2 separate regions of the Homo sapiens genome follow, and region 1 is linked to region 2. The links come from fine-mapping of genetic effects on gene expression. Tissue or cell type: whole blood. Region 2 holds a variant in brackets; the other region holds the start of a gene. All regions are shown on one strand. Distances are from middle to middle.

Region 1 (8,087 bases), 140 kb before region 2:
TTTTTTTTTTTTTTTTTTGAGATGGAGTTTCGCTCGTTGCCCAGGCTGGAGTGCAATGGAGCAATCTCGGCTCACCACAACCTCCGCCTCCCGGGTTCAAGCGATTCTCCTGCCTCAGCCTCCCGAGTAGCTGGGATTACGGGCATGCACCACCACGCCCGGCTAATTTTGTATTTTTAGGAGAGACAGGGTTTCTCCATGTTAGTCAGGCTGGTCTTGAACTCCCGACCTCAGGTGATCCGCCCTCCTCGGCCTCCCAAAATGCTGGATTACAGGCGTGAGCCACCGCGCCTGTCCAGGAATCAGTTTTTTCCAACAAGTTTTTGGACTCCACTTTGAGAAATCCTGACCTGCACTATGCCTGAAACACTCCAAAGGGGGTGCTGATCTGGAGACAGATCTGTCCTGGGACCTGTTTCAGCCCTGTCAGCTCCTGGTGGCTGAGTTGAAGGGTGTGGCCCAGAAGGCAGGGCAGAGCTAGCTTCTGGGTTCCTTCAGCCCCTGCAAGGTTTGGGACTCTGTCCACAGGTCCAGACCCAGTACTTATTATGAACTGTTGGGGGTGCATCCTGGTGCCAGCACTGAGGAAGTTAAACGAGCTTTCTTCTCCAAGTCCAAAGAGGTACCCGTACCCCTGAGGTGGGGAGGGGGAGCAGGAACTTTGAGCCAGTGGGGGTGTGCTTCAAATTCCCAGGAGTAGACCAGCATCTCTGGCGGGTGCCACATTTTTTCAGCCCTCATAGGGAGTGGCAGGTGCTCAATGGTAGGGGAAAGGCTGTGGGCAGGAGCCAGGGGTCCTGTCTGATGGGCTGGGCTTGGTTTTCTTGACCTGCCTGCCTGCTCTTGAGAAACCTGGACCAGGGCATATGGTGAATGCAGGGGGCTGGCAGGTGGGGAGGGCTTGAACACAGGAGGAAGCAGGAGTCCATGCTCTCTGGCCTTCTGAGGAGTGGGCAGGCCTGAGTGAGGGTCACTGACCAGGCAGGGCCTCTGGGTATGACTGGAGCCCTGGTGGGTGGATGTCATCAGCATGGGTCCTGGGGAGGGACAGGCAAAGGGAGATAAGGGGAGTCCTGCCCCACCCCAGCTGCACCCAGACCGGGACCCTGGGAACCCAAGCCTGCACAGCCGCTTTGTGGAGCTGAGCGAGGCATACCGTGTGCTCAGCCGTGAGCAGAGCCGCCGCAGCTATGATGACCAGCTCCGCTCAGGTAGTCCCCCAAAGTCTCCACGAACCACAGTCCATGACAAGTCTGCCCACCAAACACACAGGTACAGTAATCCTGCCCTCAGCTTGCCCCACCCCCAGGTCTCTTGGGTAGTCTCATTTCCACAATGTCCCTTCCTCTGCCTCCCAGCAGCTCCTGGACACCCCCCAACGCACAGTACTGGTCCCAGTTTCACAGCGTGAGGCCACAGGGGCCCCAGTTGAGGCAGCAGCAACACAAACAAAACAAACAAGTGCTGGGGTACTGCCTCCTCCTCATGCTGGCGGGCATGGGCCTGCACTACATTGCCTTCAGGTGATGCCTGTTCTCCCCGGGGTGATGGGCAGAGGGCAGGAGGGTGGGTGAATTCCAGTGTGGTCAGCCAGTCCTCCACAGCACCTCGTGGCCCGTACTCTTGTGTCTCTCAAGCTAAGAGCTGCTTGAAGTTGGTCTCTGGAGCCTCTCCTTACTTATTAAAGGCAGCGCTGCACCAAGAGCTAACGTTGTCATTTACAGTTTTTCATATTTCGAATGTAAATCTTTCATGCTGGCTGCCAGGAAGGGATTGAGCCAAACAAAATCAAGCACAAGCAGCAAATGCAGCACAGCTCATTCATTTGGCAGTAGGCATCTCCCTGCCACTCTCACGCGTGCCACGGAGCTGATTCTCTTTATTCTCTTTTTTTCTTTTTTTTTTCTTTGAGATGGAGTCTCACTCTGTTGCCCAGGCTGCAGTGCAGTGGCGCAATCTCGGCTCACTGCAACCCCACCTCTGCCTCCCAGGTTCAAGCAATTCTTCTGTCTCAGCCTCCCGAGTAGCTGGGACTACAGGCGTCCACCACCACACCCGGCTAGTTGTTTTGTATTTTTAGTAGAGATGGGGTTTCACCATATTGGCCAGGCTGGTCTCAAACTCCTGACCTCAGGTGATCCACCCGCCTCAGCCTCCCAAAGTACTGGGATTACAGGTGAGAGCTACCGCGCCTGGCCACAAAGCCGATTTTCTATAGCAGATACCTAAAGGCCAGTGCCCACTGCTAGCAGCCTGCCTAGTTCAGTGATGGAGTTAGACGCATACCCTTTCTAGTCTTCTGGGAGGAGCACCCCCATGTCCACAGCTGCTGTCACACCTCAAAGTGACCAGGGACTTCGGATGCCATTGGACCCTAGACAAGCCAGGGCCACTCTGAGCCCTCCCTATCTATCACAGGAAGGGTTAGACTGAGGTTCCTAACCCTGTGTAAGGGTAAAAAGCTGTGAGGCCCCTAGAGTGGGGTGGAAGGGGGCAGGACTTCAGGGACAGCAGGAATTGGATTCCCAGGGTTAATTGTGACCCATTGCAGGAAGGTGAAGCAGATGCACCTTAACTTCATGGATGAAAAGGATCGGATCATCACAGCCTTCTACAACGAAGCCCGGGCACGGGCCAGGTCTGTCCCTGCTCTATTCTGCTCCCTGCTCCCTGTCCAGGAACCACACTTCGGGATCCCTATCCCAACCACCCAGGTGCCCTCTCCTCCAGGGCCAACAGAGGCATCCTTCAGCAGGAGCGACAACGGCTAGGGCAGCGGCAGCCGCCACCATCCGAGCCAACCCAAGGCCCCGAGATCGTGCCCCGGGGCGCCGGCCCCTGAGGGGCTCACCTGGATGGGGCCTGCAGTGCGTTCCCGCTTTGCTTCCTTCCCTGGACGGCCCGCTCCCCGAAACGCGCGCAATAAAGTGATTCGCAGAGCTCGTGTCCGGCTCCCTCCTTAAGGCCCGACGCCCCCGGCCCCGGCCTCGCCAAGGGGCAGCGCCCCGCCCTCCGGGTAGTGGCGGCGGCGACTGGGGAGCCCAGCCTCCTGGGCGGTGCGTCCCCTTTCCCCTGCCGCGGCGGGAGGCGGGAGGGGGTGTGTGGAGGAGGCGGGCCCCGCCGACGGCCTCGCCCCCCCACCCCGCCGCCCCGCCCCCGCCCCACGGGCCGGTGGGGAGCGCGTGTCTGGGTCACATGAGCCGCCTGCCCGCCAGCCCGGGCCCAGCCCCCCGCCGCCCCCGCCGTCCCCGCCGCCGCTGCCCGCCGCCACCGGCCGCCCGCCCGCCCGGCTCCTCCGGCCGCCTCCGCTGCGCTGCGCTGCGCTGCCTGCACCCAGGGCTCGGGAGGGGGCCGCGGAGGAGTCGCCCCCCGCGCCCGGCCCCCGCCCGCCGCGCCCGGGCCCGCGCCATGGGGCTCTGGCTGTCGCCGCCCCCCGCGCCGCCGGGCTAGGGCGATGCGGGCGCCCCCGGCGGGCGGCCCCGGCGGGCACCATGAGCCCTCTGCTCCGCCGCCTGCTGCTCGCCGCACTCCTGCAGCTGGCCCCCGCCCAGGTACGTGCGGCCCGACAGCGCGCCCGCCCGCCCGCCGTGCCCTCTCTCAAGGTTGGCGGAAGTGAGGAGGCGACCCGCGGCCTCGGCCGAGGGGATCTGCGGGGTCCGGCCTTGGACGCGGGCGTCTCGGGGGCCCGGCGCGTGCATCCCCTGGGAGGTGCCCCTCCCCGCTGGCCCGCCAGCCCCAGTCTGGGGCCACTCCTCCGCCCCACCCCGTCCCCTGGGCACCGCCGGGGGCGGGGCTCCCTCGGTGCCTGCAGGACCTGCTTCGGTGGGCACTGTGCGCGCTCCTGATCTGCATGCAGCCCCCAAACATGCTCGGCTCCGCGGCCTGGAGATTTGGCGCGGCCACCAGAGCACCTGTTGCGTTTTGGGCCAGGGCAGGTCCCGGGTGGCCAGGAGAGGACAGGTAAAGCTAGAGCAGTGGCCGCAGGAACAGAGCAATCTGGAAAGATGTCAGAGAGGTGGTGAAGCCTACTGATGCAAGGGCAAAGCCCCAGGGACGGTGACAGGGCCACACCCTCCTAAAGTGTACCTTGGGTACAGGTCTTTTCTCTCCCACAGGCCCCTGTCTCCCAGCCTGATGCCCCTGGCCACCAGAGGAAAGGTAATACTTACAAAAACTCGGCACTAGCCAGCACTAAGAGGGTTTGTCATGGGCCCTGATTCCAGGTGTCCATCATCTTGTGTAACTCCCCTAGAAGATTCAAACTATTATTCTACCCATTTCACAGAGGAGGAAATTGAGGCAGTGGGGTTACTGGGATCTGGATAAACAGGGCAGGGGAAGACAGGTTGTGAGGGCAGAGTGGGGAGGGCTAGTGGAGGGTGGCTGTGACTTGGGGACTGGGGAGGACAGATGCTGGGAGCAGCTGCAGGAAAACCAGTGAGGACTTAACCCCTACCGGTCTGCTCCCAGTGGTGTCATGGATAGATGTGTATACTCGCGCTACCTGCCAGCCCCGGGAGGTGGTGGTGCCCTTGACTGTGGAGCTCATGGGCACCGTGGCCAAACAGCTGGTGCCCAGCTGCGTGACTGTGCAGCGCTGTGGTGGCTGCTGCCCTGACGATGGCCTGGAGTGTGTGCCCACTGGGCAGCACCAAGTCCGGATGCAGGTACTGGGCAGGTGGGGCAACGGGCAGGGGATGCAGGTACTGGGCAGGTGGGGCAGCGGGCAGGGTGGATGCTGGCTGGCTCTGGGGCTGGGGCAGCCTGGAGACTGATGCACAGGAGACAGGGTTGGGGGGAGGGCTGGTGGCCAGCCTCCCGGCTGTTGGGTGAGCTTTTCTCCCTTCAGTCTTAGAGCATCCCCTTTCTCTCTCTCCCTCACTGTCCCCCCTGTTCTTCTCCTGAGCACAGATCCTCATGATCCGGTACCCGAGCAGTCAGCTGGGGGAGATGTCCCTGGAAGAACACAGCCAGTGTGAATGCAGGTGCCAGCCAGGCCCAACTTCTGAGCTCGCAGAGGCCAGGCTTGGGGGGTGCTGGGTATGGTGGTCCACAGAACTGGGGACCAGGTTCCTAAGAGTAGAACCAAGGGGCCGGGCGTGGTAGCTCACGCCTGTAATCCCAGCACTTTGGGAGGCCGAGGCGGGCGGATCATGAGGTCAGGAGATCGAGACCATCCTGGCTAACATGGTAAAAACCTGTCTCTACTAAAAAAATACAAAAAATTAGCCGGGCGTGGTGGCGGGCACCTGTAGTCCCAGCTACTCCGGAGGCTGAGGCAGGAGAATGGCATGAACCTGGGAGGCGTAGCTTGCAGTGAGCCAAGATCGTGCCACTGCATTCCAGCCTGGGCGACAGAGCAAGACTCTGCCACAAAAAAAAAAAAAAAAAAAAAAAAAAAAGAGTAGAGCCAAGGGTAGGCCTTGGATCTGGGGCAACAAAGTAGGATGCTTGGGCCGGGGGTAGTGGCTCACACCTATAATCCCAGCACTTTGGGAGGCCCAGGCAGGCAGATCACCTGAGGTAAGGCGTTTGAGACCAGCCTGGCCAACATGGTGAAACCCCATCTCTACTAAAAAAAAATACAAAAATTAGCCGCGCATGGTGGCAGGTGCCTGTAATCCCAGCTACTTGGGAGGCTGAGACAAGAGAATAGCTTGAACCTGGGAGGCGGAGGTTGCAGTGAGCCGAGACCACGCCACTGCACTCCAGCCTGGGCAAGAAGAGGGAAACACAGTCTCAAAGAGAGAGAGAGAGAGAGAGAGAGAGAGAGAGAGAGAGTAGGATGCTGGGATTTCCTGATCTTCCTCTTGTTTGTCTGTGTCTGTCTATCTTACTTTTCAGACCTAAAAAAAAGGACAGTGCTGTGAAGCCAGACAGGTGAGTCTTTTGGACTCCAGCTGAGTAGGGGTATGGGGAGTACAAGTGAGTCCAGAAGCTGTTGCTCCTCTTTCTCCTCCCACCCGTCCCCCACTTTCCCTTTTCCTCTGCTCCCCAAGCCTGTGTTCTCTGCCCCGACCCCAGCTCTAGGGAAGACTCTTCCTTCCCACCCCAGACATGTCGCTTCTCCTCCCTAGGGCTGCCACTCCCCACCACCGTCCCCAGCCCCGTTCTGTTCCGGGCTGGGACTCTGCCCCCGGAGCACCCTCCCCAGCTGACATCACCCATCCCACTCCAGCCCCAGGCCCCTCTGCCCACGCTGCACCCAGCACCACCAGCGCCCTGACCCCCGGACCTGCCGCTGCCGCTGCCGACGCCGCAGCTTCCTCCGTTGCCAAGGGCGGGGCTTAGAGCTCAACCCAGACACCTGCAGGTGAGGCGTCTGTGGGGTGGTGTTTGTTTGGGAAGGCACCAAGGCCCTGTCCTGGAGCAGGTCCAGGGTGAGCCTGCCAGTAGGAGGAGGGCCAGGGAAGGGGAAACTGTTGAATGTGTTGAACAAATATTTACCAAACAGCTGCTGGCACCTGGAGCTGTATAAGCAAGTCCAACATTCTAACTCAGGAGTCAGATACAGGAGGGACAATGCCAGCAGAGGATGTCAAGGGCTGTGGTGAGGGGTACCTGGCCTCGTCTTTCAGAGGTCAGAGATCTCTTGGAGGAGGTGACATCTGCCCGGAGTAGAAATGTAGGACACAGCTTTTCCAGCTTGCAGTTCGGGCCTTCCCAGAAGCCCCTGTGGTAGACATCTGCCCTTACCTACGGGCTTCAAGAGGCCAGGGGACATAGTGGAACCCTTGTCCACCCTTACCTGATGTGTTTCTCACCATCCGTGTCCCGCAGTGAGGCCATGGGGTGAAATCATATGGGCAGGGCCAGTGGGGGCTCCCGAGGAGTGTCAGGAGGGGATGACCTTTGCAAAAGGTTCATCCTTCGCCCTGCAGCCTCCAGTGCCCAGGGCCGAGTGGTGTGGCAGGATGCTCAGGTTGTGATCTTAGTGGGCCCGAGGCACACATGAGTCCAGGGCTGGGGCTGCGCTCCAGCCAGCATGAACAGATCACTTCCTCCCTCCTCAGGTGCCGGAAGCTGCGAAGGTGACACATGGCTTTTCAGACTCAGCAGGGTGACTTGCCTCAGAGGCTATATCCCAGTGGGGGAACAAAGAGGAGCCTGGTAAAAAACAGCCAAGCCCCCAAGACCTCAGCCCAGGCAGAAGCTGCTCTAGGACCTGGGCCTCTCAGAGGGCTCTTCTGCCATCCCTTGTCTCCCTGAGGCCATCATCAAACAGGACAGAGTTGGAAGAGGAGACTGGGAGGCAGCAAGAGGGGTCACATACCAGCTCAGGGGAGAATGGAGTACTGTCTCAGTTTCTAACCACTCTGTGCAAGTAAGCATCTTACAACTGGCTCTTCCTCCCCTCACTAAGAAGACCCAAACCTCTGCATAATGGGATTTGGGCTTTGGTACAAGAACTGTGACCCCCAACCCTGATAAAAGAGATGGAAGGAGCTGTCCCTGCCTGTGTCACTGTTTGTCACTGTCCAGGCTGGCTGGTTTGGGCATGAATGTCTGCATCACTAAATCCAGAGCTTGTCTTGCTCCCTCATTGTGCAGATGGAGGAAATGAGGACTAAGGCCCCACAGCAGATCCCAGGCAGGGCCAGAATTATGTATTCATCACTTTCAAGTTATTGCCACGCATGGGAGTCAGGGATAGCCCAGTCAATACAGACTGCCTGCCCTCCTGCTCTTCACCAGGGTTCTTTTCTAGAAGGAGACAGCCTTCTGTGGCCAGAGAGCTTGGGGTAGGACCCAGATCTACTGAGTGACCTTGCTTGTCACTACCCCTGCCTCTCTGAGCAGCAGTTTCCACATGTGCACATAGAGGGAACAGAAGATTGCTGTGGTTGGCGTCCTCGGGCCCCAGAGAAGTTTGAGACTATCTTTACGTAATAGAAAAGAACACTTGTTCTTCCTGCCAGGCAGCGCTTTCAGCATCTGCTGCTTTTTGTTCCCTGCAGCTTGAATCTAAAGCCTCAGCACCTGCCCTGTCTTAACTTCACTCCCACCTCCCTGAAAGGGAAGCACCGCAAGTCTGGGGCTGGTGGGCCTGGTTTGGGCGGCAGGCTCCCCTCAACCCAACCCACAGT
Region 2 (8,090 bases):
GATGTCCTGACAGCTCCCGCCCCAGGGTCTGCCTGAACCCCACCCTGGGCCGCCTCCCCATCGTTTCTCTCCCTGTGGCTACCCTGTGAGACCATCTCATGTGGACCTTCCCCTCCTGTCCCCGGGAGGCCTGGGGATCTGGGCTGGGACCCAGAGGTGCCCAGGTGAGGCGAATCAGGCAGTCCTTGTGGGCAGGTGGGGCTCCGGGGGAGTGGAAAGGGTATGCGGGCGCCAGCTGTGTCCCATCCTGGTGGTCTGAAAGAACAGGAAGGGGCCCAGGACAAGGGGCCCTCAGGAGAAGGGAAGAAATTCTGAGGCTCTAATTCTGACTCCTGTGTTACCAGCTGTGTGACTTTAGCAAGTCACCTAACAGCCCCAACCTCCCCTATTTGTCGAAAAGAGGAACTAGAGAATTAACAGATTTAAGAGTATGGTCACTCAGTCACCAGGAATTTATTGAGATTTACTGACCTTTTCCAATGTGTAGGGACCCTCCTGAGCACTCTAGGCGGGAATCTCATTGAAGGAGATGAAAGGGTCCCATTTCATCAGATACTCACAAGCACTGAGTATTACCATTTCAAAACCTTTTCTAATTGAGTGGATGCAAAATAGTCTCTCATCTTCAATTTCTTCACCTCTCATTCCATGTAACTCACAGCCACCCTATGAAAGAGGTATCCTTAGCCTCATTTCTTCCTATTAATTAATTAATTTAACTTTTATTTTAAAAAGAGATTTTTTTTTTTTTGAGACGGAGTCTGGCTCTGTTGTCCAAGGCTGGAGTGCAGGGGTGCGATCTCAGCTCACTGCAACCTCTGCCTCCTGGGTTCCAGTGATTCTCCTGCCTCAGCCTCCCGAGTAGCTGGGATTACAGGCGCCTGCCACCACACCCGGCTAATTTTGTATTTTTAGTAGAGAAGAGGTTTCACCATGTTGGGCAGGCTGGTCTCGAACTCCTGACCTCAGGTGATCCGCCCGCCTCGGCCTCCCAAAGTGCTGGGATTACAGGTGTGAGCCGCTGCACCTGGCCTAATTTAGCTTTTAGAGATGGGGTCTTGCTCTGTTGCCCAGGCTGGAGTGCAGTGGTGCCATCGTAGCTCACTGCAGCCTCAAACTCTTGGGCTCAAGCGATCCTTCTGCTTCAGCCTCCGGAGTACTTAGCCTCATTTCAGGGGTGAAGAAACGGTTCAGAGGATGCAGTAACCCAGAGAAGGGAGGATGCTGGGTGGAAAGAGCAGGGACTTAGAGGAATGAGCCAGCCTTGGTTTGAATCCTGCCTCTTCTCTGTGTGGTCAAGGAGCCTGCGGGTGGGAGATAGATGTGATTGAGCTGCAGGCTGGCCAGGGTGTAAAGCGGCAGAGTGGAAGGGGACACGGTGGGCACAGGCAGGGAAGTAGGGAGGCCAGAGGCCAATGCTCAAGGTCTTAGGTCTGGCCCCCTGCTTCTATACCTTGACTTTGGCTGCTGACTAGCCTTACCTAACATGGAGGCTGGCTCTTCCAGGGGAGCCAGGAGAGGTCACCCTCCTACACTGGGCTTCTGTTTCCACTCTTCAAATGTCCTCAGTGAACAGGCTTGGGCTTCCTGCTCTGATAAAATGTTGGCGCCCCAAGAGGGTCCGACAGCCCTGTAAACCTCTGGCTCCCTCCAAGTCGCTGTTAACTTTTTTTTTTTTTTTTTGGAGACGGAGTTTTGCTCTGGTTGCCCAGGCTGGAGTGTAGTGGTGTGATCTTAGCTCACCGCAACCTCTGCCTCCTGGGTTGAATCAATTCTCCTGCCTCAGCCTCTCGAGTAGCTGGGATTACAGGCATGCGTCTCCATGCCCGGCTAATTTTGTATTTTTAGTAGAGACGGGGTTTCTCCATGTTGGTCAGGCTGGTCTCGAACTCCTGACCTCAGGTCATCCTCCGGCCTTGGCTTCCCAAAGTGGTGGGATTACAGGCGTGAGACACCGCTCCTGGCCTGCTGTTAACTATTAATAACTACTGTTAGAACTAAAGTTCTGGCCGGGCACAGCAGCTCGCGCCTGTAATCCCAGCACTTTAGGAAACCGAGGTGGGCGGATCATCTGAGGTCAGGAGTTCGAGACCAGCCTGGCCAACATGGTGAAACCCTGTCTCTACTAAAAATACAAAAAATAGCCAGGCATTTTGTAATCCCATGCATGTAATCCCAGCTCCTAGGGAGGCTGAGGCAAGAGAATCGCTTGAACCCGGCAGGCGGAGGTTGTGGTGAGCTGAGATGGTGCCACTGCACTCCAGCCTGGGCGACAGGGCGAGACTCCATCTCAAAGTTCTAGAGTCACTGTTTGACTCTAAGCAAGTTACTTCTCCCTAAGGTACTTTGGGAGTGTAAACAAAAATATTCCATATGAACGTAGAGATTGCAAACTGGCCTGTGCCTGGCCTATAGAAACTCATTTTTGGGGCCAGCACTTTTTTTTTTTTTTTTTGAGACAGTGTTTTATTCTGTCGCCTACCCTTGAGTGTAGTGGTGCAATCTCGGCTCACTACAGCCTCAACCTTCTGGGCCCAAGTGATCCTCCCACCTCAGCCACCCAAGTAGCTGGGATTACAGGCATGCGCCACCATGCCTGGCTAATTTTTGTATTTTTGTAGAGATGGGGTTTCGCCAAGTTGCCCAGGCAGGTCTTGAACTCCTGAGCTCAAGTGATCTGCTTCCCAAAGTGTTGGGACTGCACGCATTAGCCACCGCACCTGGCCTAAGCACACGCTGTAAAATGAGGAAAAGCATATGGAATCCTAGATGTGAGGCTTTTGCTGATGAGCTGGAAGGGCTGGCCCTGGGGCAGTCTTCCTGCATGGTCTAATCAGCTGGAGCAGAATCACGCTGCCGCCACAGACAGGGCCTCTGCTTTCCAGGTTGCCGCAGTCCCCACCACTCCCTGTGGTTACACCAGCTCTGTCCTGCATTCATCCCTCTGGCCCTCTAGGCATTTGAGTTTGTGACTCTGATATAAACAGTCTCCTTCCACGGTCACTGCTGCACAAAAATGGGCTTTGTGAAATGTCAAAGATACCCCTTAAATCTTTTATTTTTGGCCAGGTGCGGTGGCTCATCCCTGTAATTCCATCACTTGGGGAGGCCGAGGCGGGTAGATCACTTGAGGTCAGGAGTTCGAGACCAACCCAGCCATGGCAAAACCCCGTCTCTACTAAAAATATAAAAATTAGCCGGGTGTGGTGGCGCAGGCCTGTAATCCCAGCTACCTGGGAGGCTGAGGGAGGGGAGTCGCTTGAACCCGGGAGGTGGAGGTTGCAGTGAGCTGAGATGGCGCCACTGCACTCCAGCCTGGGCGACAGAGCGAGATTCCATCTCAAAAAAAAAAAAATCTTTTATTTTGTTTTAAAACTTAAATTTAGTTTCTATTTGTATTTGTGAAAGACGATAAATTTGGCCGAGTGGGGTGGCTCTCTCCTATAATCCCAGCACTGTGGGAGGCCAAGGAGGGAGAATCCCTTGAGCTCAGGAGTTCCAGACTAACCTGGACACCATAGTGAGATGAGAGCTTGTCT[C/CAA]AAAAAAAAAAAATATATATATATATAATTCATATGATTCAAAATTCAAAGGATCCATAAAAGTACATAGTGAAAAATGTTCTTCCACATGCTGACCCTCTGCCACGTACCTTCTGTTGTTGCCAGAGGAAGCTAATGTGTTCTTGTGTAGTTTTCCAGGAATATTTATGTGTAGTCGAACAACTATATAATAATATGCATGTATAAGTAAAAATTCATATTAATTAAATGTTAATTTTAGAAAAAATCAGTAAGAGGCTGGGCACGATGGCTCACGCCTGTAATCCCAGCACTTTGGGAGGCCGAGGTGGGCGGATCAAGAGGTCAGGAGATCGAGATCATCCTGGCAAACACGGTGAAACCCTGTCTCTACTAAAAATACAAAAAATTAGCTGGGTGTGGTGGCGGGCTCCTGTAGTCCCAGCTACTCAGGAGGTTGAGGCAGGAGAATGGCGTGAACCTGGGAGGCGGAGCTTGCAGTGAGCAGAGATTGCGCCACTGCACTCTAACCTGGGCAACAGAGCGAGACTCCGTCTCAAAAAAAAAAAAAAAGAAAAAATCAGTAAATGCAAAGGAGATTTCAAAAAATCACTCGTGGCATTACTCTCCATAGATAAACTGTGTTAGTTAATATTTTGATGCATTCAATTCTTTTTTTTTTTTTTTTTTTTTGAGACAGATTCTTGCTGTGACACCCAGGCTGGAGTACAGTGGCGGTATCTCAGCTCACTGCAACCTCCCACTCCTAAGTTCGAGTGATTCTCCTGTCTCAGCCTCCCAGGTAGCTGGGATTACAGGTGCGCAACATCCCACCAGGCTAATTTTTGTATTATTAGTAGAGACGGGGTTTTACCACGTTGGCCAGGCTGGTCTCGAACTCCTGACCTCAGGTGATCCACCCGTGTTGGCCTCCCAAAGTGCCACTTACAGGCATGAGCCACTTCGCCTGGTCTGATGCATTCACTTCTAAGTTTTTCTTTGTTTTTTTTCTTTTTGAGGCAGGGTCTCACTCTGTCACCCAGGCGGGAGTGCAGTGACATGATCATAGTTCATTGCAGCTTCAACCTCCTGGGCTGAAGCAATTCTCACACCTCATTTTTTGATTTTGTTGTTGTTTTTTGTAGAGATGGAGTCTCACTATGTTGTCCAGGCTGGTCTCGAACTCCTGGGCTCAAGCAAGCCTCCCACCTCGGACTCCCAAAGTTTTGGGATTACAGGTGTGAGCCACCATGCCCGGCCTAGAATTTTCTTTATTGATACAGATTTTTAGTTAAAATGGCATCAAAATGTAAATAGGTTATTATAGCCTGTCTAAAGTCAAAAATAGATTGTGAATATCTTTCTATGTCAATGACTATATTTTACAATTATTCTTTGTAGCTGTAGGGTGCTTCATTATATGGGTATGCAATGATTTATTTAGATTGTTTCTATTTTTGGCTACAGCTCCTTGCTATTTTAAACAGTGCTGCAGTGAACATCCTTGTACCTACGTCTTTGCTCACCTGTCCAAATATTTCCTTAGGATACGTTTCCTAGAAGTGAAGTTAATAGGCTAAAGGATGTGCCGCTGCATGCACGTTTTAAAGGTCTTTGATATATGTGATCACACTGCCCTTCAGAAAGATCCTATCATTTTATATGACTTGCAGCAGCACGAGCAAGATCCAGGAAGCACTGTCTCCTTTAAAATGAAATAGCAGGCCTCGCCAGCGGAGTGTGTCCTTGCCCTCATTTTTCTTGGCGGAGCTCCTGGAGGCTGATGCAGGAGCGGAGGCTCTCCCTTTCCTGCCCTGCAGTCGCCCGCTGGGCCCGTGATGGTGGTGGAGGGTGTTGTGGACCATGAGTAGGGGACGAGGGACAGAAGTGGTGGATCTGACCTTTGTCTCTGCGGGAATGGGCTGGGGACACAGTCTGCATGGGGGAGGGAGAGAGTGATTCCAGGGATGTGCTGAAGGGTCCCCAGGGAGTGGGCATGCTTGAGGGCAGGAGAGCTGGGCGTCGGGGAAGCTTTGCAGAACCATGAACTGAGCCGCCGAGTGGCTTCATACCAGGGCTCTTCTCCCAGCTGTGCAGTCGTGACCAAAACCACTTGGGCTTGAGTCTCCGTGGCCTCTAGAGTGAAGTGCGGATGGAACAACAGCCACTGGAATTGCCGACGGGTGCACGGCCAAACGCTTGGCAAAGTGCGTGGCGCGCTGGGATTCCCCCACAAAAGGCAGTTTACCAAAAAATTATTAAGAGAACCCAGGAAAATTGAGGCCAGTTCAGGCTTGCTCAGGAAGGGACCCATGTCCAGGAAAGAGAGAGCGATGCTCTTCCCTCGCTCCCGGTCCCCCTTCCCTGGGCCACCGGCCTTTCCCTTCCGGCATCAGCCAGAGCCAAGTGTTCTGAACACTACCCCCGCCCCCACGAAAAGTGAGGACCAGATGGCGCCCCACCCTCTGAATACCTCTCAGCACGGAGTGTGAATCGCCACCGACCTGGCGTGTGTCAGTAGCTGCCTGGGAGCGGCCAGGATGGGCGTGGGAGCACACTCTTGTGTATGTGAATGTGTGCGTATGTGAGTAAATAAGTGTGTCAGTGTGAGATTGTGTGTGAGCACCTGTGTGTCTATGTGAGCGTGTGAAGACGTGTGAGTGAATATGAGGATGCTAGGGAGCATGTGAGTGCGAACTCATGAGTGCACGAGTGTGTGGGTGTATGGGAGTGTGTATGTGAGCACGTGAGTGTGAGAATGTGGATGAGTGTGGGTGTGTGTAAGCACAAGTGTGTGGGTGTGTATGCAGGTGTGTGCTGTGAGGATTGTGTTTGCATGTGTAAGTGTGAATGTGTATGAATGTATGTGAACAAAGCCTGTGTGTTTTGTGTGATTTGAGTGTATGTGTGAACATGTGTGACAGTGTGGACATATAAGTGTGAGTGTGAACAAAGCCTGAGTATGTTGTGATTGTAAGCATGTGACAGTGTGTGTGCATGAGTGTGTGAATGTGTGTAAGAATGTGTCAGTGTGTGTCAGTGTATGTATGTGTGTAAATGTGTCAATGTGTTGAGTGTATGTATGTGTGTTAGTGTGTGTCAGTGTGGCTGTGTCAGTTTGAGTGTGAGTGCACATGTGTGAGCATGTGTGTGGGTGTGAGCGTGTGTGTGTGGGTGTGTGTGTGAGCATGTCAACGCGTGGGTGTGAGCGTGTGAGTGTGGGTGTGAGCGTGTGGACGTGTGTGGGTGTGAACGCGTGTGAGTGTGTGGGTTTGAACGTGTGTGTGGGTGTGAGCGTGTGAACGTGTGCGGGTGTGAGCGTGTGTGTGTATGTGGGTGTGAGTGTGTGAGCGTGAGTGTGAGAGTGTGTGTGAGTGTGTCGCTCTCTGAGGGAAGCACACAGCGCCGTGGTAGAAGCTCTGAAGTAAACACTTCGTTCTTCAGTTGATTCCCCTCCACGGGGACCCTGTTGCCTACTGGGACTGTATTGTAGCCGGGGGATGCGGGATTCAGACCCGGCCAGGAAGGCCTGACTCTCCGCACTGGGTGGGGCCGGCCTGGAGGCTGCAGAGGGGAGCCGCGGGCAGGCACGGGGCGGCCGCTGGCCGTGAAGTGATGTGCTGGTTGACGCTGTGGGCATGTAGGGGCTGTCAGGGGAGCGGTGACAGAACCAGGGCCAGGCGGGAACTGGAATCTCCAGGGATCTTGCTTTGCCTGTGAGTGGGGAAAGAAGGGCTGTGGGGAGAAGCACCGCAGGACTAGGCTGGGGGGACTGGAGCCCGGAGGTAACCCTGAGGCTGGCTTGTGACTTCATCTCCAGGGCAGACGCAGCCTGGGATGTGTGTGGGGAGTCCCTGGCCTGCTTGGAAAGGGAAGCCCTTCCTCCCCAAAGCTGAGCCTTCCCAGAAGGGGTGCTCCGGCTCTGCTGTGGGGAAGACTCTGCCCTCCGCAGCTGCCCTCAGATGTCACTGGGGGAGGGTATCCCTAATAACTGTTGTGTAAAGTGTAAGAAGCTCAGGGCACTGACTCAGGTGTGCAAGAAAAATCACTTTTTTTTTTTTTTTTGAGATGGAGTCTTACTCTGTTGCCTAGGCTGGAGTGCAGTGGCACAATCTCAGCTCACTGTAACCTCCGCCTCCTGGGTTCAAGTGATCCTCCTGCCTCAGCCTCTCAAGTAGCTGGAATTACAAGTGTGCACCACCACACCCAGCTAATTTTTGTATTTTTAGTAGAGACGAGCTTTCACTATGTTGGCCAGGCTGGTCTCAAACTCCTGACCTCAAGTGATCTGCCCGCTTCGGCCTCCCAAAGTGCTGGGATTGCAGGTGTAAGCCACCGCCTCCCACCACTTGTTTTTAACCACTCAGCAGTGTTTCTGACATCAAGACCTTGGCTGAACTGGCAGAGAAAAAGTAGCTTCCAATTTTCCTGGTGAACTTCCTACCCTGCTCAGGGTCCTGTCACAGCGGCAGAGACCTCTGAGGGACCAGAGCAGCAAGTAGGGGCCAGGAGGGCCCCCATCATGGGTGCACACAGGAACTTCTGACACGTCCACACTCCAGTCCTTAAAGC

What was found. PIP is the estimated chance that this variant, and not a neighbour inherited with it, causes the effect.
Region 1: VEGFB starts here. The variant in region 2 is fine-mapped to the expression of VEGFB in whole blood (INTERVAL, PIP above 0.99).

Annotation. Positions count from the first base shown.
Region 1 is chr11:64,231,343-64,239,429 of GRCh38, forward strand. It overlaps VEGFB (vascular endothelial growth factor B), which reads left to right and starts at 3,242. Exons shown (of 7, transcript NM_003377.5): 1 at 3,242-3,551; 2 at 4,116-4,158; 3 at 4,471-4,667; 4 at 4,912-4,985; 5 at 5,845-5,880; 6 at 6,078-6,313; 7 at 7,014-7,922. The coding sequence starts at 3,492. The coding sequence ends at 6,291. It overlaps DNAJC4 (DnaJ heat shock protein family (Hsp40) member C4), which reads left to right. Exons shown (of 6, transcript NM_005528.4): 2 at 529-622; 3 at 1,088-1,272; 4 at 1,362-1,523; 5 at 2,552-2,638; 6 at 2,731-2,939. The coding sequence ends at 2,842. It overlaps LOC124902687 (a long non-coding RNA gene), which reads right to left and starts at 28. Exons shown (of 2, transcript XR_007062713.1): 1 at 1-28. RefSeq lists silencers at 2,790-3,279, 3,500-3,869.
Region 2 is chr11:64,373,399-64,381,488 of GRCh38, forward strand. No RefSeq gene overlaps it. Among named protein-coding and RNA genes, the nearest start is that of MIR1237, 8.8 kb to the left of the region's middle. RefSeq lists enhancers at 1-136, 137-690, 5,797-6,414. The variant C/CAA (reference allele first, on the strand shown) is at 3,540.